2 separate regions of the Homo sapiens genome follow, and region 1 is linked to region 2. The links come from fine-mapping of genetic effects on gene expression. A gene starts in region 2. The other region holds a variant in brackets. All regions are shown on one strand. Distances are between the middles of the regions. Region 1 holds the start of FLYWCH1 (FLYWCH-type zinc finger 1). Region 2 holds the start of FLYWCH2 (FLYWCH family member 2).

Evidence for each region.
Region 1: its variant is fine-mapped to the expression of FLYWCH2 in whole blood (INTERVAL, PIP 0.92).

Annotation. Positions count from the first base shown.
Region 1 is chr16:2,902,097-2,913,553 of GRCh38, reverse strand. FLYWCH1 (FLYWCH-type zinc finger 1) reads right to left here and starts at 1,623. Exons shown (of 10, transcript NM_001308068.2): 1 at 1,400-1,623. RefSeq lists silencers at 990-1,179, 1,153-1,252, 6,260-6,329, 7,496-8,315, 8,986-9,215 and 3 more and an enhancer at 7,930-8,430. The variant G/A (reference allele first, on the strand shown) is at 7,607.
Region 2 is chr16:2,877,327-2,889,192 of GRCh38, reverse strand. FLYWCH2 (FLYWCH family member 2) reads right to left here and starts at 5,978. Exons shown (of 4, transcript NM_138439.3): 1 at 5,827-5,978. RefSeq lists silencers at 5,543-5,602, 5,693-5,862, 6,363-6,832 and an enhancer at 6,561-7,061.

The DNA of each region.
Region 1 (11,457 bases), 25 kb before region 2:
GATCCCACTGTCATGCCCTACCACACGTTGTGACCACCAACACTGCAGAACGTTCCCTGGGGTGCAGAATTGCCCAAGAGCCACAGCTCCAAAGCAACTTAGAAATTAGAGCGCACAGAAAGGGAGAGCTTGGCCAATGAGACCCCCCCAGCCCGGTATTCCCCAGTCACCCTCCATCATAATATAAGTTTATTTACTCCTTCCCACAGCCTAATGCATCCTCAAATCTCTCTCCCTCTATGCCTGATATACCCATCTTCCCTCTCCTTCCCACTCCCACCAACTCAGGACATGATCCCTTACCACGACCTCTTTAGCCCAAGCCAAAGCCTCTGAACGATCTTGCCAGCTTTGGCAAGCAGCCACTCCAATTCTCCACATAGGGTGCTGACAGGTCACTCTTCCTAAAGCTTAACTTTCAGCATGTCTCTCCCCAATTAAATCATCTCCATCTCCAGCCTTAGTGCATCATCAGCTGGGCGTCATAAACACTCCGCAATCTAGCCCCAACCTCAGCCTTGTTCCTTCCACACGTCCCGCCAGTAGCACTTGGGAAAGGAACAAGAGAAACATGATATAATCACACGAGAAAATCTAGATCAAGCCCTGGAAATCATATTGGCCCTTGGAAAGCAGAAATATGCAAATAAAAATAAGCCATTTCGTTGGAATTGGAGTTTGCACATGATTATCTGACTATGGGAGTTCAGCTTCCAGTACAAGGAATAAAGGAACAACAGGCAGGGTTTAGAGCGAGGGTTTCAACTACGTCAGACCCGTTATGTGCAGGCTCCATGGGTTAGCAGCAGCCTTTTGGAACGGGGTGGAAGAGAATGGAACGGAATTTAATCCGAACAGATCCAGCTGCGTCATGTGAGCTTAAACAAGCGTCTCCCTTTAAACTTGTGCTTCAGTCATCCAGACCCACAGGCACAGAGTACACGCGTAAAAGGCATTTCTCAGTGTCGGCTGTGGGTCAACAAAGTTCGAAAGCCGTCACCGGAGATCTATAGGGTCAGAAGCGGGAGCGGGGTGCGTCCCGACCCGCAAAAGTGCAAGGTCACTGGGACCGCCCGAGCTGCAACCGTGGGACGGGGCTGATGCTGCGGGTCCAGGAAGGCAGCGCTGGGCGGGGCAGACACCGCCAGGAAACGGCGGACGAGTGCGGGGATCCTTGATGTGGGGGTGTCGGGCTTAGGCCAGGGGACGGGGGGGTGGGGATGGAGGGGCGAGGAGCAAGGAGGGAATCGCGGGAGACCCCACAGGAGGCGGCCTGAGCGCCGGGACGCAGACCCCTCCCCAGCACCCGCAACCCTCGGGACCCCCGGGAGAGCCGGGCTGCGGGCGCGTCCACGCCGGGGACGCGGGACATTCCCCGCCCGCAGGGGCCTGTCCTCACCGACGGCAGCGGGGCCCTCCCTCTCCCGCGACAGCGCCGCGGCGGATCCTTCAGCCTCTGCCGCTGCAGCAGCGAGCGTCGACCCCGCGACCCAGGCCGCCGCCGCCACCCCGACCCGGGCACCAGCTCCCAGCCCCGACCTGCCCCTCGGGAGCGAGCCCCGTGACCGCGCGCGCGACCCCGCCGGGGAGCCGGCCTTGCGGAACGCTCAGGCGCGCTACTTCAGAGCATGCGCAGCAAGACCGCGCGGCCCGTTCCTTAGGTAAACCGCTGCTCCGGGTCTTCCCTGCGCGGCGCCGAGCCGCAGGCCTGGCCTGTCAGCGCATGGGGGCGGGGACGTAACTCACGGAAAAGGCGGGGCCATCCCGAGATTGGACGGCGGCGTCCAGGGGCGGAGCTAGGATGGGGGAGCTGAACAGGACGCTCTTGGCGTAAAGGGGCTGGGGTAGGGGGCGCTTAATTGAGACCCCAGGACGGTCCCCAGTATCTGAGGCTGCCCGCAGGAAACGGAGCGTTTGCTGAGATGCACTCTTGGGCCTGTCAGTTTCCTGACCCCGTGGGAAGGCGATTCTCATGCATCTCATTGACGCCCCCAGTGACCCTACCCCAGAGCGGAACCAGTGTGAGATTCAAATAAACAGCGATAGCAACGGATTATAACCTTGACTACGATATGAGTCCAAACTGAAGGAAATAAGTCAACGGGGGAGAAGGGACAGTTGTTTCTTACATCAGAAAGCCAACAACGACAAAAAAATACCTGGGCCGGGCGCGGTGGCTCACGCCTGTAATCCCAGCACTTTGGGAGGCCGAGGCGGGTGGATCACCTGAGGTCAGGAGTTCGAGAACAGCGTGGCCAACATGGTGAAACCCCGTTTCTACTAAAAATACGAACATTAGTCGGGCGTGGTACTGGGCGCCTGTAATCCCAGCTACTCGGGAGGCTGAGGCAGGAGAATAACTTGAACCCGGGAGGCGGAGGTTGCAGTGAGCCGAGACGGCGCCACTGCACTCCAGCCTGGGCGACAGAGTGAGACTGTGTCTAAAAAAAAAAAAGCAGAAATATTACATAGTATTACAAAGTCTGCATGACGTGTGATGTAACACATTGAATGTAGAAGCAGGTATGAGAGCCAGTAGTCTTCTTTTAAGCCCGCAACAAAGATATTTGCAAAAATGTATAACTATGTCACTCGTCTCACTAAATTTCTTTGGGAAAATATTGTACTTTTTCATAAAACTATGTTAACACAATCAGCTTACTATTTTTTGGTAAGATCTTTATTGAAATATAATTCACATACCATGCATTTCTCCCATTTAAAGTGTACAATTAAATGATATGTAGTATAGTCAGAGAGTTGTGCAAACAGCACCATAGTCAGTTTTAAAACCTTTCATCACTCCAAGAAGAAACCTTTAGCCACCACCCTCCAATTTGCTAATCACCCCAGCCCTAAGTAATATGATCTATTTTCTGTCTTTATAGATTTGCGTATTCTGCATATTTCATATAAATGAAATCATGCAACAAATATGTGGTCTCTTGTGACTGACTTCTTTCGCCTAGCCTTAGCATAGCACTTTCAAAGTTCATCCATGTTGGCCGGGTACAGTGACTCTTGCTTGTAATCCCAGCACTTTGGGAGGCTGAGACAGGAGCATCGTTTGAGCCCAGGAGTTTGAGATCAGCCTAGGCAACATAGTGAGACTCTTTCTCTACAGAAAAAAAGAAAAGAGGAACAAGAGAAAATTAGCTGGATGTGGTGATGCGCTGTAGTCCCAGCTACTCAGGAGGCTGAGGTGGAAGGATCACTTGAGCTTGGGAGCTGGAGGCTGCAGTGAGCTGCGCTCATGCCACTGCACTCCAGGCTGGGCGACAGAGCAAGACCCTGTTCAAAAATAAAATAGTAGCAGAACTTAATTACTTTTTTTTTTTCTTGAGATGGAGTCTTGCTCTGTCGCCCAGGCTGGAGTGCAGTGGCACGACCTCAGCTCACTGCAACCTCCATCTCCCGGGTTCAAGTGATTCTCCTGCCTCAGCCTCCTGAGCAGCTGGGATTGGGATTATTACAGACAGTTGCCACCACGCCCGGCTTTTTTTTTTTTTTTTTCTTTTTTGAGACGGAGTCTCGCTCTGTCGCCCAGGCTGGAGTGCAGTGGCGCCATCTCGGCTCACTGCAAGCTCCGCCTTTCGGGTTCACGCCATTCTCCTGCCTCAGCCTCCCGAGTAGCTGGGACTACAGGCGCCTGCCACTGCGCCCAGCTAATTTTTTGTATTTTTAGTAGAGACGGGGTTTCACCGTGGTCTCGATCTCCTGACCTTGTGATCCGCCCGCCTCGGCCTCCCAAAGTGCTGAGATTACGGGCGTGAGCCACCACGCCCAGCCCCTCCAGCTTTTTTTGAGAGGAGTCTGACTGCGATGCCCAGGCTGGAGTGCAATGGCGCTATCTTGGCTCACTGCAACCTTTGCTTTCCGGTTCAAGAGATTGTCCGCCTCAGCTTCCCCAATAGCTAGGACTACATGCGTGCGCCACCATGCCCGGCTGATTTTTGTATTTTTAGGAGAGACGGGGTTTCACCACGTTGTCCAGGCTGATTTCAAACTCCTGACCTCAGGTGATCTGCCCGACTTGGCCTCCCAAAGTGCTGGGATTACAGGCATGAGCCACCATGCCCGGCCAGGATGCTGTTTTTGTTTCTTCGTTTGTTTTGTTTAGTTTTTGAGACAGAATCTCCCTCAGTCGTCCAGGTTGGAGTGCAGTGGTGAGATCACAGTTCACTGCAGCTTCCATCAAACTCTTGGGTTCCATTGATCCTCTTGCCTCAGCCTCCCAAGTACCTGGCACTACAGGTGCACACCACCGCACCCGGCTAATTTTTTTTTTTTTTTTTTTTTTTTTGTGGAGACGGGGTTTCCCTATCCTGCCCAGGCTGGTCTTACATTCCTAGGCTCAAGTTATTCACCCGCCGCAGCCTCCCAAAGTGCTAACCACCACGCCCTACCTTTGGCACCCTTGTTGACAACCAATTGATCATAAATGTGGTTTGTTTCTGGATTCTTGATTCTATTCCATTGATGTATCTATTACTTATTTATTTATTTAGAAACGGAGTCTTGCTCTTCTTGCCCAGGCTAGAGTGCAATGGTGCGATCTTGGCTCACTGCCATCTCTACCTCCCGGGCTCAAGTGATTCTCCTGCCCCAGGGTCCCAAGTAGCTGGGATTACAGGCACCCACCACCACGTCCGGCTAAATTTTTGTATTTTTAGTAGAGACAGGGTTTCACCATGTTGGCGAGGCTGGTCTCGAACTCCTGACCTCAGGTGATCTGCCCTCTTGACCTCCCAAAGTGCTAGGATTACAGGCATGAACCACTGCGTCCTGCCTGTTATTCCTTTTCAATATTCTTTTGCCTACTCTGGGTCTTTTGAGTTTCCAGTTGTCATCTTTCTTGTCAATCTTTGTGAAAATGAATCACTACCTTTAATTTTACATCGTTGAGACCACCGCAATTTTTTTTTTTTTTTTTTGAGACGGAGTCTTGCTCTGTTGCCCAGGCTGGAGTGCAGTGGTGTGATCTCGGCTCACTGCAATCTCTATCTCCCGGGTTCACGCCATTCTCCTGCCTCAGCCTCCCGAGTAGCTGGGCCTACAGGCGCCCGCCACCAAGTCCGGCTAATTTTTTGTATTTTTAGTAGAGACAGGGTTTCACCGTGTTAGCCAGGTTGGTCTCAATCTCCTGACCTTGTGATCTGCCTGCCTCGGCCTCCCAAAGTTCTGGGATTACAGGCGTGAGCCACCACGCCCGGCCGCAATTATTATTATTATAATTATTTTGAGGGGGACTCTCGCTCTGTTGCCCAGGCTGGAGTGCAATGGTGCGATCTCGGCTCGCTGCAAATCTGCCTCCGGGTTCAAGCGATTCTTCCGCCTTAGGCTCCCGAGTAGCTGGGATTACAGGTGCGCACCACCACCCCGGCTAATTTTTTAATTTTTTAAATTTTTTTTTTTTTTTTTGAGACGGAGTTTCGCTCTTCTTGCCTAGGCTGGAGTGCAATGGCGCGATGTCAGCTCACTGCAACTTCTGCTGTGGGCGGCAAGCCACCCAGGCGCCGAGGCAAGAGACTGAGGACACAAGCTGTTCCAGTATAATAAAATATAAAACAAGAATAGTTATACCAGATATAGATCTTAGACATGATTATATATGAATATCATTAATCATTAGTTTGTAGTAATTACTCTTTATCCCAATATTATAATAATCCCCGCTCTATAATCATAACCTAGGAAAAACCAGGCCATACAGAGATAGTGTAGCAGGACGAGTCGCAGACAAAACTCCTCAGACACCGGATTAAAGAAGGAAGAGGTTTTTTTATTCGGCCGGGAGCGTCAGCAGACTCGTGTCTTAAGAGCCGAGCTCCCTGAAAAAGAAATTCCTAGCCCTTTTAAGGGCTTACAACTCTAAGGGGTCTACGTGAAAAAGTCGTAATAGATCAAGTAAGCATGAGGAACGTGACTGGGGGCTACAAACATCAGTTAACAGAACAAAAAGTTTTATAGTGCTTTCTCATACAATGTCTGGAATTTACAGATAACACCAGTAGTTTTGGTCAGGGGTTAATAATAATATTATTATTTTAGCCACCAGGGCCGGGTGGTGGCGCCAAGGTCGTCTAGCTATTTATCTTACTTCTGTTTCTTTCCAACTTTTTGCTTTCTCTCTTTTCTCCTGTCTTATAAACTAGGGAAAAGGGGAGGTTGGGGAGAAACTGGGAAGGACAACAGGAGAAGTGGTGGCCTCATACCATAATAGGAGCTGAGGGGACACAGTGAGGTGTGACCAGAAGACAAGAGTGCGAGCCTTCTGTTATGCCCGGACAGGGCCACCAGAGGGCTCCTTGGTCTAGCGGTGACGCCAGCGTCTGGGAAGACACCCGTTGCCAGGGGGACCATGGTCTAGCTGTAGCGAAAAGTGTCAAGGAACAACACCCGCTACTTAGCAGACCAGGAAAGGGGGGGGGGGTCTCCCTTTCCCCGGGGGAGTTTAGAGAAGACTCTGCTCCTCCACCTCTTGTGGAGGGCCTGACATCAGTCAGGCTTGCCCACAGTTATCCGGAGACCTAACCGTCTCCCTGTGATGCTGTGCTTCAGTGGTCATGCTCCTAGTCTGCCTTCATGTTCCATCCTGTACACCTGGCTCTGCCTTCTAGATAGCAGTAGAAAATTAGTGAAAGTACTGAAAGTCTCTGATATGCAGAAATAATGGTGTAAGCTGTCTTTCTCTTTGTCTCCTCTCTCTCTCTGCCTCGGCTGCCAGGCAGGGAAGGGCCCCCTGTCCAGTGGACACATGACCCACGTGACGTTACCTATCATTGGAGATGACTCACACTCTTTACCCTGCCCCTTTTGCTTGCATCCAGTAAATAACAGTGCAGCCAGACATTCGGGGCCGCTACCGGTCTCCGCACATTGGTGGTAGTCGTCCCCCGGGCCCAGCTGTCTTTTCTTTTATCTCTTTGTCTTGTGTCTTTATTTCTACACTCTCTCATCGCCGCACACGGGGAGAGACCCACAGACCCTGTGGGGCTGGTCCCTGCACTCTGCCTCCCGGATTCAAGTGATTCTCCTGCCTCAGCCTCCTGAGTAGCTGGGATTACAGGCATGCGCCACCACGCCCGGCTAGTTTTGGATTTTTAGTAGAGTCTGAGTTTCTCCATGTTGGTCAGGCTGCTCTCTAACTTCCGACCTCAGGTGATCCACCCACCTTGGCCTCCGAAAGTGCTGAGATTACAGACGTAAGCCACCCCTCCCGGTCTTAATTTTAATTTTTACTAGAGACGTGGTCTCCCTATGTTCCCCAGGCTGGTCTCAAACTCCTGAGCTCAAGCGATTCTCTCTCCTTGGCCTCCCAAAGCATTGGGAAACAGACGTGAGCCACCCCAGTCAACCTCCTTTTGGGATTCTTGCAACTTTTCTGTAGGTGAGAAATTATGTCAAAGTAGAAGCTAGATAAAGGAATACTCCCTTCATCCCCTGAGCATTCCACGAGGTGAAATCCTCCTTTTCCCATTGGCCCAGCCACCGCCCAGCCCGTGGCCATTGGTCCAGCCCTCGCCCATTGGTCCAGCCCCGGCCCATCCCTCGTCCATTAGTCCAGCCCTTGCCATTGGTCCAACCCATCCATTGGTTCAGCCCC[G/A]CCCATTGGTACCGCCCCCTTCCATTGGCTCAGACCCCGTCCTTTGGCCCCGCCCTGCCCATTGGCCCTTCGCTCGCCCATTGGTCTAGCCACGCCCATTGGCCCAGCCCATCCCTCGCCCATTGGTCCATCCCCGCCCTTTTGTTCCACCCCTTCCGTCGGCTTAGTGCCCGCCCTTGGCCCGGCCCGCCCATTGGTCCAGCCCCGCCCATTGGCCCAGCCCCGGCCCAGCCCTAGCCCATTGGCCCCGCCCCGGCCCAGCCCTAGCCCATTGGCCCCGCCCCGCCCATTGGTTCAGCCCCACCCATTGGTTCCGCTCCCTTCTATTGGCTCAGCTCCGCCCCTTGGCCCCACCCCGCCCATTAGTTCAGGCCCCATTCATTGATGTCCAGCACTCGCCCATTGGTCCACGCCTTGCCCATTGGTTTAGCCCTCGACCACTGGCTCACCGCTAGCGAATTGATTCGGTCCCCGCCCACTGGTCCCTCCCCTGCCCACGGGCCCCGCCCTTCCCGCTGTCCCTTCCTGGCTCAGCGCGCGCCAAGGACACATTCTCCAGCAACGCGGTGCGGTACCGGGCTGAGTCCAAGCGCCAGGAGCCGCGGGGTCCTGGTTGCTGTTTTCCTGTGACGCTTGGCGGCGGCGGCCAGAGCGGCCCCAGCACCGTGCCCTGGGCTCACTGCGGCTCTCCTATCACCCAGGGGTCGTCCCGGTCCGCCCGCACTCTTCTCTCCGCCCGACCCCCCTCTGGCTGCGCGTCCTCGGCTGGCTCGGGGAGGGCGCCGCTCCTCCCTGGGAGACCCCAGGGAGACCCGCCTCACGGCCTGCGCACCTCCTCTCGCTCTAAAGCGGCCGCTGGAGGAGCCACAGGTCTGGCGGGTCCATGTCGAGGTGCCCTGGGCTCCCGCACGACCCCACGGCCTCCTGCGTCCCGCACCTCTTGTGTCCTGCAGCCGCCCGCGTCCTCTCTGGGACCCCTTCCTTCCGAGTCCGTCCACATCCCCGGCGGTTCCTCTGAAATCCGCACCCCCCAACCCCGGAACCTCGGCTCTTCCGCGCGCTCCTCGTCCCCGCATCCTCAGCCCCTAGATGTCCTCCGCGTTCTGTATCCCCCTGCACCACACCGCTCCCTCTCTCCCTGCCCTTCGCACTAGGACCCTCAGGGACCAAAATCGTCCAAGATGCCTTCCCTGGTGTCGAGTTTATGTTAAGGGGTTGGGTGAGGAGACCAAAAAGCAGTGGATGTGGTAACCACAGGGGCGCCGTGTGTCCGAGTCGGGCGCCTGTCGGAGGAAGCGAGACGGGAGGAGAGGCTGCGGCTCGCGCCCTGGGCAGCGACAGTGTGGACGCCATTGCAATTTCCCAACGGCTGCCACCCGCAGGGTCAACACACAGGCCCCCTCCACCCCTCCCAGTCGCCCACCTCCCATCCCTGCAGAAGCCACCTTAGAGCCGGTGTCTGGGCCGTAAGGAGCCCGGGTGGGGGTCAGGCGGGTGGGCGGAGCGGGACTGAGGCTGCGGGGCGGAACCGCACTCCTGGCTGCCAGCACTGCCTGGGTCCTGGGGAGGCTGCTGGGCCGCCGCTGAGTCCGCGCGCGCCCTCTCCCGGCCGTCAGGAGCATCGGCCAGAACGTCTCCAGATTCCGGCCCTGAACCCGGATGAGGCCCTGCCCAGCGCTCGGTGCTGTCCAAGGAAAATGAGACCTCGAGGTGAAAAGCGCAGAGGCTGTGCACGCTAGGGCCAAGCGGAGGACGCGTTATTACTGTTTTCTTCTTGATGATAAAACCAGGTGTTGACAAATGCCGGAGAGATCGGCATTCGCAGGACGTGGGTTGAATGTAACTTGCATTCTTCCAGTTCGGCAATCTCACTTCTAGAACTCTGTCCTAGGAACATACGAGGCTATTTCAGGATTGCTTACAACCTGGAGGCAACCGGGATGTGTCTGGCCACTGGAGCTAGTGGATTTCACGCATCCCTGCAGTGGGCATCAAGCAGCAAAAAGAATGTTGTGCAGCATTCATAAGAAGGAAGACATTTGTAACACATTATGAAAAAACATATGTGGGCCAGGCACGGTGGCTCATGCCTGTAATCCCAGTACTTTAGGAGGCCGAGGCGGGAGGATGACTTGAGGTGAGGAGTTCAAGACCAGCCTGGCCAACATGGCGAAACCCCGTCTCTACTTAAAAATACAAAAATTAGCCAGGCACGCTAGCGCGCGCCTGTATTCCCACCTACTCGGGAGGCTGAGTCAGGAGAATCACTTGAACCCGGGAGGCGGAGGTTGCAGTGAGCCGAGATCTCCCCACTGCACTCCAGCCTGGACGGCAGAGCGAGACTCTGTCTCAACAACAAATGTGTGGCATCACCTTGATTTTCTGAAAATAAAAAAATTTTAAAAATATATATTTTTTGGCCGGGCGCGGTGGCTCACGCCTGTAATCGTAGCACTTTGGGAGTCTGAGGCGGGTGGATCACCTGAGGTCGGGAATTCGAGACCAGCCTGACCAACATGGAGAAACCCTGTCTCTATTAAAAATAAAAAATTAGCCAGGTGTGGTGGTGCATGCATGTAATCCCAGCTACTGGAGAGACTGAGGCAGGAGAATCACTTGGACCCAGGAGGCAGAGTTTGTAGTGAGCCAAGATCGCACCACTGGACTCCAGCCTGGGCAACAAGAGTGAAACTCTGGCTAAATATATATATATAGCCAGAGTTTATATATACAAATATATAAATATAAATATATATAAATATATAAATAAATATATATAAATATATAAATAAATATATATAAATATATATAAATATGTATAAATATAAATATATATATAGCCAGAGTATATATATTATATACACACACACACACATATATTTTTTAAAATTTACCTCTAAGTAGTGGAATTACTGGAGGTAATTTGTAATTTTTGTCCCCTTTTCAAAATTAAAATTAATGACATCTACACTCAGCAACCACACACATGGGCGGGGGGCACCGTTCTTGGAGCTACTGCAATACCAGGTCGATGCATGGAGTGAACTAAGTAAGCTGCTATTGCAACCCCCTCCTACAAAAATCCACTTTATATACATTTTTTTAGACAGGGTCTCATCATGTCACCCACTCTGGAGCTCAGTGGTGCCATCATGGCTGACTGCAGCCTTGACTTCCTGGGCTCAGGCAATCCTCCAGCCTCAGCCTCTTGAGTAGCTGGACTATAGGTGAGCTCAGGTGATCCTCCTGGCTCAGCTTCCCCAGTAGCTGGGACTACAGGCACGCACCACCACACCTAGCTAATTTTTGTATTTTTTTGTAGAGTCAGTGTCTCACTATGTTGCCCAGGCTGGCCCCCACTGGGTTGGCCTCTGTCATACACCCCGCGGCACCCAGACTCCTCGGTGGCCCTTAGCCTCAGGTTCATAGACTCATCAGTCAGGGATTTCTATGTTTCCTCTGTGGCTCTGCGGGGGATGGGTTGTGACCTGTTTACCACTAGATCCCGGGAACCCTGCTTGGGCCTGTACATCAAAGTCCCCAAGAAGTGAAGGAGCAAGAAAGTGGCAGAATTTTTAAAATTTTCAATTTAATTTAAAAAATTAATGTTTTAAAATTTGTGTTTGGATTTAAAATGTGAATGGATATCCATAATTGCATTTTTTTTTTTTTGAGATGGGGTCTCGCTCTGTCGCCCAGGCTGGAGTGCAATGGCATGATCTCGGCTTACTGCAACCTCCACCTCCTGGGTTCAAGTGATTCTCCTGCCTCAGCCTCCCGAGTAGATGAGATTACAGATGCCCACTGCCACGCCTGGCCAATTTTTTGTATTTTTTAGTAGAGACAGGGTT
Region 2 (11,866 bases):
AGATTGAAAAATGACTGTATACACATGTATACACACACACAAACAACAACAACAACAACAAAAAAACACCAAATTTTGAGCAAAATGGCCCTGACAAAGGTTGCCTGGTAGGAACTGTGTTTTATGAATCATTTTTATGCGTTCTGGAAAAACACAAGTGATACTTTTCTGAATATCAAATTTCAGTTAATCATAGTGTTTAATACCTCATTTTCAAAAATGACAAATATTTCTTTTCTACAATTAGTCCCATGCACACCTCCTAAGTAGTGCAATAATAAATTTGCTTCCATGACTTTTTAACTTAAAAAGTTACTTCTGCTCTTAAAAACCATGATATTTGCTCTAGCTCATGAAGCTGCAGAGAAATAATTCCACAGAATCTCAGAGAAGTGAAGGTTATGAAGATCTCCTCATACTCTCCATTTGGAGGACAAGGTAGCCAAGAAGAAGCCAGTCCTGGGACTTCCTCCAGGATAAGAGGCTTAGCTGGTCAAGCTGGTCAGCCCACAGGACTGGAGCACCTACTGGGCTTCAGGTTCCCCAAGAAGATCATGACATTGTTGAAAGAAATTAAAGAAGCCCTAAACAAATGGAAAGACATCCCATGTTCATGGATTGGAAGACTTGATATTGTTAAGATGACAACACTTCTGACATTGATCTATAGATTCTTAATTCCAGCTGGCTTTTTTTTTTTTTTTTTTTGGAGAAACTGACAAGCTGGTCCTAAAATTCATATGAAAATTCAAGGAACCCAGAATAGCAAAAACAATCTTGAAAAAAAAAAAACTTGCAGGACTGACACATCTCTATCTCAAAATATATTATCACAAAGCTACAGTAATCAATACAATGTGGTACTGGCATAAAGACCGACACAGGCCGGGCACAGTGGCTCATGCCTGTAATCCCAGCACTTTGGGAGGCCAAGGTGGGTGGATTGCCTGAACTCAGGAGTTTGAGACCAGCATAAGCAACATGGTGAAACCCCGTCTCTACTAAAAATACAAAAAATTAGCCGAGTGTGGCGGCATGCAACTATAGTCACAGCTACTCGGAAGGCTGAGGCAGGAGAATTGCTAGAACCCGGGAGGCGGAGGTTGCAGTGAGCCGAGATCACGCCACTACACTCCAGCCTGGGCAACAGAGCGAGACTCCACCTCTTAAAAAACAAACAAACAAACAAACAAAACACAGACACAGAGATCAACAGAATAGAACTGAGAGTCCAGAAATACACTCTTATATATATGGTGAACTGATTTTCAGCAAAGGTGGCAAGACAGTTCTGTGGAGGGAAAATAGTCTTAACGACAAATGTTGGGCCAGGCGTGGTGGCTCATGCTTGTAATTCCAGTACTTTGGGAGGGTGATGTAGGAGGATCGCTTGAACCCAGGAGTTCCAGACCAGCCTAGGCAACATAGTGAGATCTCATCTCTAAAAAAAATATTATTAACCAGGGTGGTGGGGCACATATGTAGTTCCAGCAACTTGGGAGGCTGAGGTGGGAGCGTTGCTTGAGCCTGGGAGGTCAAGGCTGCAGTAAGCTGTGATTGTGCTGCTGTACCTCAGCCTGGGTGACAGAGCAAGACTCTGTCTCAAAAAATAATAATAATAATAATAAAAACAAACATTAAATGCTAGGACCACTGAATATCCAATACAAAAGAATGAAGTTGTATGCTTTCCTCACAGCATATACAAAAATTAACTCTAAATAAATTATATGGCTAGGCATGGTGGCTCATGCCTATAAACCTAGCACTTTGGGAGGCTGAGGTGGGCAGATCTCTTCAGCTCGGGAGTTCAGGTCTAGCCTGGGCAACATGGCGAGACCTCATCTCTACTAAAAATACAAAAAAAAAAAAAAAAAAAGAAAGCCGGGCATGGTGGTGTGCACCCGTGGTCCCAGCTACTTGGGAAGCTGAGGTGGAAGGATTGCTTAAGCCAGTGGGGCGGAGGTTGCAGTGAGCCGAGATTGCACCACTGCACTCCAGCTTGGGTAACAGAGTGAGATCCTGTCTCAAAACAACAAAAAAACAAAAAATTATAGTTTATTACAAGAGCTACAGTAATAAAACTTTTTTTTAAAAGAAAAACTAAATTCTCATAACCTTAGATTAGGCAAAGCTTTCTTCAATATAATGAAAGGCACAAACAACCAATGAAGAAATAAACTGGACTTCAACTAAGTTTAAGAGTTTTGTGTTTTAGCCATAAAACTTTTGAAAGTTAAGAGATAACCCATAGAATGGGAAAAAATGTTTGCAAATCATATATCTGATAAGGGACTTGTATCTGGAATTTATAAAGAACTATTACAACTCAGTAATAAACAAGCAAACAAACAAACAATTTAAAAATGGGCGGCTGGGCATGGTGGCTCACACCTGTAATCCCAGCACTTTGGGAGGCCGAGGCAGGTGGATCATCTGAGGTCGGGAGTTCGAGACCAGCCTGACCAACATGGAGAAACCCTGTCTCTACTAAAAATACAAAATTAGCCAAGCTTGGTGGCACATGCCTGTAATCCCAGCTACTCAGGAGGCTGAGACAGGAGAATTGCTTGAACCCAGGAGGCGGAGGTTGCGGTAAGCTGAGATTGCACCAGTGCACTCCAGCCGGGACAACAAGAGCAAAATCCGCCTCAAAAAAAAAAAAAAAAAAAAAAAGGACAAAGGGGCAGGGCGTGGTGGCTCATGCCTGTAATCCCAGCACTTAGGGAGGCTGAGGCAGGAGGATCACCTGAGGTCAGGAGTTCGAGATCAGCCTAGACAACATAGTGAAACCCTGTCTCTACTAAAAATACAAAAATTATTTTCTTTTTTGGATTGGTGGCATGGTGGCACATGCCTGTAATCCCAGCTACTCAGGAGGCTGCGCAGCATGAGAATTGCTTGAACCCGGGAGGTGGAGATTTCAGTGAGCCGAGGTGGCGCCACTGCACTACACTGCACTGCAGCCTGGGCATCAAAGTGGTACTCCGTCTAAAAAAAAAAAATAATAACAATAATAATAATAATGGGCAAAGGCTCCAAACAGGCTTTTCTCTAAAGAAGATATACAAATGGCTAATATATGAGAAGATGCTCAACATCATTAGTCACCAGGGAAATGCAAATCAAAACCACAATGAGATATCACTTCACACCACCAGGATGGACATAATAAAACAAACAAAAAACAGATAATAGCAAGTGCTGGTGAGGATGAGGAGAAACTGGAACCCTCATACACTGCTGAGGGGAATGTAAAATGGTGCAGCCATTTTTGGAAACCAGCCTGGCAGTTCCTCAAAAGGTTAAATGTAGAGTTACCCTATGACCCAGCAATTCCACTACTAGCTATATGCCTGGAAGAAAGGAAAACACATGTCCACATAAAAATGTGTACATGAATGTTACAGTTGCATTATTCATGAAAGCCAAAACGTTTCGATGGATATTCAAAACAGCCCAAATATCCATCAATGGATGAATGAATAAGTACAATGTGGTGCATGTATAAAATGGAATATTATTTGGCAGTAAAAAAAATCTATGCTACAACATGAATGAACCTTGAAGAAATTATGCTCGGTAAAAGAAGCCAGACCCAAAAGACCACATATTATATGATTCCATTTACATGAAATTACTTAGAGTCTAGAGAATCTACAGAGTAGGAAAATCTATGGAGACAGAACGTAGATTTGTGGTTATCTCGGGATTGGGGTGGGGAAGGGGAGAATGAGAATTGACTACTAGTGGGTATGTGCTTTATGGGGTGATGAAAATGTCCTAAAAGGAATTTTCATGAGGGTTGCACAACTTTGTGATCACACTAAAGCCACTGAACTGTATATTTTTTTTTTTGTTTTGTTTTGTTTTTTTGAGACGGAGTCTCGCTCTGTCGCCCAGGCTGGAGTGCAGTGGCGTGATCTCACTGCAAGCTCCGCCTCCCGGGTTCACGCCATTCTCCTGCCTCAGCCTCCGGAGTAGCTGGGACTACAGGCGCCTGCCACCACGCCTGGCTAATTTTTTGTATTTTTAGTAGAGACGGGGTTTCACCGTGTTAGCCAGGATGGTCTCGATCTCCTGACCTCGTGATCCGCCCTCCTTGGCCTCCCAAAGTGCTGGGATAACAGGCGTGAGCCACCGCGCCCGGCCGAAATGTACACTTTAAATGGGTAAATTGCACGGTATGTGAATTATCTCAATAAAGTTGTTAAATATTCAGAAAAAGGTAAATTGAGTCTATGAACATATGAACAGCAGTTCCCCAATGTCACTATCCCTAAGAATCACCCGGAGTTTTTTTTTTGTTTTTGTTTTTTAGACGGAGTATCGCTCTTGTCGGCCAGGCTGGAGTGCAGTGGCGCGACCTTGGGTCACTGCAACCTCTGCCTCCCGGGTTCAAGCCTTTCTCCTGTCTCAGCCTCCCAAGTAGCTGGGATTACAAGCGTGCACCACCACACCCGGCTAATTTTGTATTTTTAGTTGAGACGGGGTTTCTCCATGTTGGTCAGGCTGGTCTCGAACTCCCGACCTCAGGTGATCCACCCTCCTTGGCCTCCCAAAGTGCTGGGATTACAGGCGTGAGCCACCGCGCCGGCCCCGACTAATTTTTGTATTTTTTTTTTTTTTTTTTTAGTAGAGACGGGGTTTCACCATGTTAGTCAGAATGGTCTCTATCTCCTGACCTTGTGATCTGCCTGCCTCGGCCTCCCAAAGTGCTAGGATTACAGGCGTGAACCACCGCGCCCGGCCTGTGTTGCTTTAAGCCACCTTATTTGTTAGGACAGCAACAGGAAACTAATACAAGGTTCAATCCCTCACTGACGATGTTCTGGACGACAGGACCCCTGCCTGGTGCCTCATGGTGGACCCACAGAATCATCTTCATACGCACGGGGGAGAAACATCACTAATGTCCACCAGCACCGGCATCCTCAGCCGCGAGGACAAATCCCTTACCCTCCCAGCAGGTTTCATCTGCGTAACGGAAATAGTGGTGAATTTATCAGGGGCTGTTAATAGATGACAGGCAAGGGTGAAGTCATCGCAAAAGTTCCCAGACGATATGGACAGCTGCTCCCCAATAATTACTGCTCCACGCAGTCCACAGCGGGGCTGTTATTGACCCCGACAGGATGACGGGACACTAAGGTGTGCAGTACACGTCCTCACAGGGAGATTTAAAAAACCGGCAGTGACCCCTGCCCCAAGAAGGCCAAGAACTGCTACTCTAAGGTGTGCAGCGCGGAGCTTCCCCACCATGGCAATTTCAGCCATGGCAGCTCCTTCCCCTAATCACCAGGGCTCAGAATCTTTATTTCACTCCTTTACCCAATGCAATTGGCATCAAACGCGGGCTGGGCTGCGCCCAAATGGTCCCAGCTCCCCGGCTCTCTCCTCTCTCAAGAATACCCACACCCTGAGGCCCCGAGTGTCTCCCCCGCCCCAGTATCTCACGCCTCCAACTCGCTGCCGTCCCTGCAGGGACCTCCCGAGCTGCAACCGTGGGACGAGGCCGGCGGGGGTTGGGGGGTGCCGGGAAGGCAGCGCTGGGCGCGGCGGACACGGCCAGGGACCGGCGGGCGAGTGCGGACCTCCTTCGTGTGGGGGTGTTGAGGCTTTGGACAAGGGACTGGAGGGGGTGGGGAAGGAGGGGCGAGAGGCAAAGAGGGAATCGCGGGAGACCCCACAGGAGGCGGCCTGAGCACCAGGACGCGGACCCCTCCTCAGCACCCGCAGCCCTCGGGACCCCCGAGAGAGCCGGGCCGGGGACTCGTCCATGCCGAGGACGCAGGACCCTCCCCGCCCGCCAGGGCCCGTCCTCACCGACGACAGCGGTGCCCTCCCTCTCCGGCGACAGCGCCGCGGCGGGTCCCTCAGCCTCCGCGCCAAGGGCCCCAGCCTCAGCTCGCGCTGTTACCTCAAGCCGGGGTCACAGCGCGAGCATGCGCAGCAAGGCCGCGGGTGCCCTGTCTTCTGGCTGGGGCCGCTCCTCCGCGTCTTGCCCGTGCGGCGTAGAGCTGGCGTCCGGCCAATCGGAGGGCGGAGGCGGGGCCAAAATTCAGTAAGGGGGCGGGGACACCCGGGATTGAGTGTCGCCGTCAGGGGCGGAGCCTCGGGGGACCTGCGGCCTGGATCCGGGTTGCGGGCGAGGTTATCCCAGCACCAGTGGGTTGGGCTTCACTGCGACCCCCGGGCTTCCTCACGGATTTGACTCCGGCTCTCTGCGGGGAAAACTGGAGCATTTGTTTAAAGGTTTTGCTCTCCCCCGTCGCGATACCGAGCGTGCGGAGGGAAGGTGTTTAGGCTCATGGAAGCCACTGCCTTGCTTTAAGCTCTGCATCCTTGACGACGCAGCAGCCTCATCCGCGCCATTGGTCCAGCCCTCGTCTATTAGTTTAGCCCCTGCCCATTGGTCCAGCCCTCGCCCAATAGTCCCGCCCTCTCTCTGTAGTTCAGCCCCTGTCCATTCATCCTTTCTCGTTATTGGTCCAGCCCTGGCCCATTGGGCCCACCCGTGCCCACGGGCCCCGCCCTCTCCGTGCCCAACCACGTTCACCCGGCCCAAGGGGTGCCCGGGACACTCGCCATCCTCCAGCCACCCACTGCAGTGGGACTGGGCTGGGTCCGGGCACAGGGAGCTGTGGGGCCCTGGGCGCTGCTTTCCTGGGACACTTGGCTGCAGCGTCCAGAGCGGCCCCCGCACAGCCCCCTAGGCTCACCGCGGCTCTCCCAGCCCCGCGGGGTCGCCCCCACTACCCCGGCCACCTTGGTCCCCCTAAGCCTGGCTCCGCGCCCCGCCCCCCTCGCTCTAAAGCGGCCGCTGAATGTGCCACCGCCCCAGGGCTCCAGGGTCCAGGTCGAGATCCTCTGGGGCCTCCCGCACCTTCCGCCTTCTCACGTCCGAATGCCAGCGTCGCTGCACGCCCTTCCTCTGCCCTGCCCCTCCCGGCCCTGGCTCTGCAGGTCTCTGAATCCCACCGTGGACTCCGCTACCAAGGCTCCCGCTGCCCCCATCCCACTATCCTATCTCCCCGGGCATTGTCTGGTGTCATTCAAGGCCTTTGTGCTTTTTTTTTTTTTTTAGAAACGAGAATTGCGCTCTGTCGCTCAGGCTGGAGTGCAGTGGCGTGATCTCGGCTCGCTGCAACCTCTGCCTCCCGGGTTCAAGCAATTCTCATGCCTCAGCCTACTGAGTAGCCGGGATTACGGGCGCCCGCCACCACGCCCGGCTAATTTTTGTACTTTTAGTAGAGACGGGTTTCACCATGTTGGCCAGGCTGGTATTGAACTTCTGACCTCAGGTGATCCACCCGCCTCGGCTTCCTAAAGTGCTGGGATTACAAGAGTGAGCCACCGTGCCCAGCTACCTTTGTGCATTTATTTGCTGTTATCTATTAATCATTCACAGACTACTGGTTGTTTTTAACTTGATGATGTTATAAATATCTTTGTATATGAATCTCTGATGTCAAAGATTTTTTTTTTTTTTTTTTGAGATGGAGTCTCGCTCTGTCGCCCAGGCTGGAGTGCAGTGGCGTGATCTCTGCTTATTGCAACCTCCGCCTCCCGGGTTCAAGCGATTTTCCCGCCTCAGCCTCCCAAGTAGCTGAGATTACAGGCACCGGTAATCATGCTTAATTTTTATATTTTTGTAGAGATGGGATTTCACCATGTTGGCCAGGCTGGTATCAAACCGGAGTTACCTCCGGTGATCTGCCCACCTCGGCCTCCAAAAGTGCTGGGATTAGACATGTGAGCCACCTTGCCTGTCGAGATATTAAAGATTTTTTTTTTTTGAGACAGAGTCTCACTCTGTTGGCAAGACCGGAGTGCAGTAGCACGATCTCAGCTCACTGCAACCTCCGCCTCCTGGGTTCAAGTGGTTCTCCTGCCTCAGCCTCCCAAGTAGCTGAGATTACAGGCGCCTGCCACCGCACCCAGCTAATTTTTTTGTATTTTTAGTAGAGACGGAGTTTCACCATCTTGGCCAGGCTGGTCTTGAACTCCTGACCTCGTGATCCACCCGCCTCAGCCTCCCAAAGTGCTGGGATTACAGGTGTGAGCCACCGCACCCAGCCAAAGATTTCTTGAAAGTCTTAAAAGAGGTCAAAGGAGGCAAATATTTTTAAAAGCTTTTTAAACATGTAGCCAAATTGTCCCCAAGGAAGTGCACAAGCTTGGGGTTAGATGCTTGGGTTCAAGTCCCTGCTGTGTCAATTGCCAGCTGTGTGAATGAGCAATTACATCCCCTCTCTGTGCCTCAGTGTCTTCACCTGATAAATGGGGGTGATAACGCACCCACCTCCTACAGCCATTGTGAGAATTCACAGAGTATTGTCATGTGGACTGATAAGAGTCTTGGTTGTTTTCTGTTTCTTTTTGTTTTTGTTTGAAACAGAGTTTCACTCTTGTTGCCCAGGCTGGGGTGCAGTGGTGTGATCTCGGCTGACTGCAACCTCCACCTCCTGGGTTCAAGTGATTCTCCTGCCTCAGCCTCCCAAGTAGCTGGGATTACAGGTGCCCGCCACTAAGCCCGGCTAATTTTTTTTGTGTTTTTAGCAGAGACGGGGTTTCACTATGTTGTCCAGGCTGGTCTTGAACACCTGACCTTGTGATCCACCCATCTCGGCCTCCCAAAGTGTTGGGATTACAGGCATGAGCCACCGTGCCTGGTGAGTCTTGGTTTTAAAATTTATATTCCTTAGTCCAGCAATTCTCAAACTTTCTGGTCTCAGAACCACTTATGACACAGGATTTTTCAGTGCCCCTTAGTCAGCCAGAGACCTCCATGGCCAGCAGCACCCCTGTTCAGGCCTCCCTTGGCCTGGGCTCGGTGCAGGAGACACCCCACCCATTCCGCCATTTGTGTCATGTTACAGCTCTTTCAATCCCGCTGCCCCCCTTGGGTCCTCAGCTTCAGGGCTGGCCCAGCCCACTGCTATTTCCTCTTGCCTGGGCAGGTTCTGGGGGTGGGTGGAGGGCTACAGTGTTACAGCCTTTTTCCTACCAGTGGTAGACCCTCCAGAGTTCTTGTCCCACATCCAAGAAGAATGAGGTTATGCTGACAGCCAGTGGGTGAGCAGGGTGAAGAGTTTTATTGAGCTAACAAACAGCTCTCAGCGAAGAGGGGACCCTCTCAAAGTCGGGTAGTTCCCCCCGCCATGGTGTGTAGACCCCAAGTGTGGCTGAGTCTGAGGTTTTTATTGGCTCAGAATGGGGGAGTGCATGCTGATTGGTTTCTGAGTATGCAAAAAAGGCTTAAAAGGCACTCAAAATTGGGCATGACAGTGTAAACAACCAGTTAGGGAAGGGTAGGTGTATGTAAAATAGGTGAAATGTGGGGATCAGTCAGAGGAAAGTGGGCCACACGGGAAGAGAGGTTCTCAGTATGTTCCATGAATTTATCAGAGACTTGTAGCTTGGTTTTCAGGCTTTAAAATGTCTTTGGTTTGAAGGCCAGTTTCACCAGGGATGGGATCTGTCTCTGTCTGCCTGGGGATTTGTCTGCCTCCTGCCGCCATCATTTTCACTGTTAGTTATTGAGACGCTCAGAGAGATTTTAGTTATGTGGGTTACATCTATCAATATTTACTATATAGAAATTTAGGCTGGGTGCAGTGGCTCATGCCTGTAATCCCACCACTTTGAGAGGCCAAGGCAGGTGGATCACCTGAGGTCAGGAGTTTGAGACCAGCCTGGCCAACATGGTGAAACCCAGTCTCTACTAAAAATACAAAAATTAGCAGGGTGTGGTCGTCGTGGGCGACTGTAATCCCAGCTACGTGGGAGGCTTGAACCCGGGAGGCAGAGGTTGCAGTGAGACAAAACAATGCCACTGCACTCCAGCCTGGGCAACAGAGTGAGGAAAAAAAACAAGACGGCTGGGTGCAGTGGCTCACGCCTGTAATCCCAGCAGTTTGTGAGGCTGAAGCAGGCAGATCATGAGGTCAGGAGTTCGAGACTAGCCTGGCCAACATGGTGAAACCCCATCTCTACTAGAAATACAAAAAAATTAGCCATGTGTTTTGGCATGTGCCTGTAATCCCAGCTACTCCAGAGGCTGAGGCAGAATTGCTTAAACCAGAGCCGCGGGTGGCGGTGGCAGGTTACAGTAAGCCAAGATCATGCTACTGCACTTCAGCCTGGGCGACAGAGCAAGACTCCGTCTTGGAAAAAAGGAACTTAAACTGATAAATTTAAAAACAGATTTATTAAAAACAGTGGTAATTAACCCACTGTATATCTTTAAACCAAAGGAATCAGTGAGTGGCAGTGTTTACACTTTTAAAAATCACTTTAGTGGCTGGGCGCGGTGGCTCACGCCTGTAATCCAAACATTTTAGGAGGCCGAGGCAGATGGAGCACCTGAGGTCAGGAGTTTGAGACCAGACTGGCCACCATGGTGAAACCCTGTCTCTATCAAAAATACAAAAATTAGCTGGACGTGGTGGCATGCACCTGTAATCCCAGCTACCCGGAAAGCTGAGGCATGAGAATTGCTTGAACCCAGGAGGCGGAGGTTGCGGTGAGCCGAGATCGCGCCACTGCACTCCAGCCTAGGTGACAGAGCAAGACGCCGTCTCAAATAAATAAATAAATAAATAATAAAAATCACTGGCCCGGCGCGGTGGCTCACACCTGTAATCCCAGCACTTTGGGAGGCTGAGGTGAGCAGATCACGAGGTCAGGAGTTCAAGACCAGCCTGGCCAACACAGTGAAACCCCACCTCTACTAAAAATACAAAAATTAGCTGGGCTTAATGGCGCGAGTCTGTAATCCCAGCTACTCACGTGGCTGAGGCAGGAGAATCGCTTGAACGCGGCGGGCAGAGGTTGCAGTGAGCTGAGATCATGCCACTGCACTCCAGCCTGGGGGACAGGACAAGACCCTGTCTCAAAAAATAGATCACTTTAGTGTCTGGCTTAAGAGACTACAGCTGCATTGTCACAACTGCCTCTGCATTCACTCTTCTGTGATGTGTTGTTTGCATTGAAGCACACAAAGAAAATCCAGCCCACACAGATAAATATTTGGAAAAGGGAGAAATATTTTAACAGCCTTTTCAGATAATTGTGGATAGTCTTCCTTGATACTACATCAAAACTCATGTGGTGGTTCTTAAAGGTTAGTTGCAGTGTAGAATCTGAAGTGGCATCAGTACAATTTTTGTATTCAATTACATCAGAATCCCTTGGTCAGCCAGGCGACGTGGCTTATGCGTGTAATCCCAGTACTTTGGGAGGTTGAGGAGGGTGGATTTCTTGAGTCCAGGAGTTTGAGACCAGCCTGGACAACATGGCGAAAACCCATCTCTACAAAATATTTACAAATTAGTTGGGTGTGGTCGGATGCCGTGTCTCACACCTGTAATCCCAGCACTTGGGAGGCTGAGGTGGGCGGATCACAAGGTCAGGAGTTCGAGACCAGCCTGACCAACATGGTGAAACCCCGTTTCTACTAAAAATACAAAAACTAGCCAGGCGTGGTGGCACGTGCCTGTAATCCCAGCTACTCAGGAGGCTGAGGCAGGAGAATCACTTCAACCCGGACGGCAGAGTTTGCAGTGAGCCAAGATCATGCCATTGCATTCCAGCCTGGGCCACAGAATGACACTCCGTCTCAAAAAAAAAAAAAAAATATTAGTCAGCTGTGGTGGTGCACGCCTATAGTCTCAACTACTTAGGAGGCTGAGGTGGGAGGTTCCTTCAAGCGCAGGAGCTTGAGGCAGCAGTGAGCCGAGATTGAGCCCTGCACTCCAGCCTGGGTGACAAAGTGAGACCCTGTCTCAAAATAATAATAATAATCCACTGGTCTTTTAGCATTTTGGAGGGATCTTGTACCCATGTGTGGTCTCATAACACC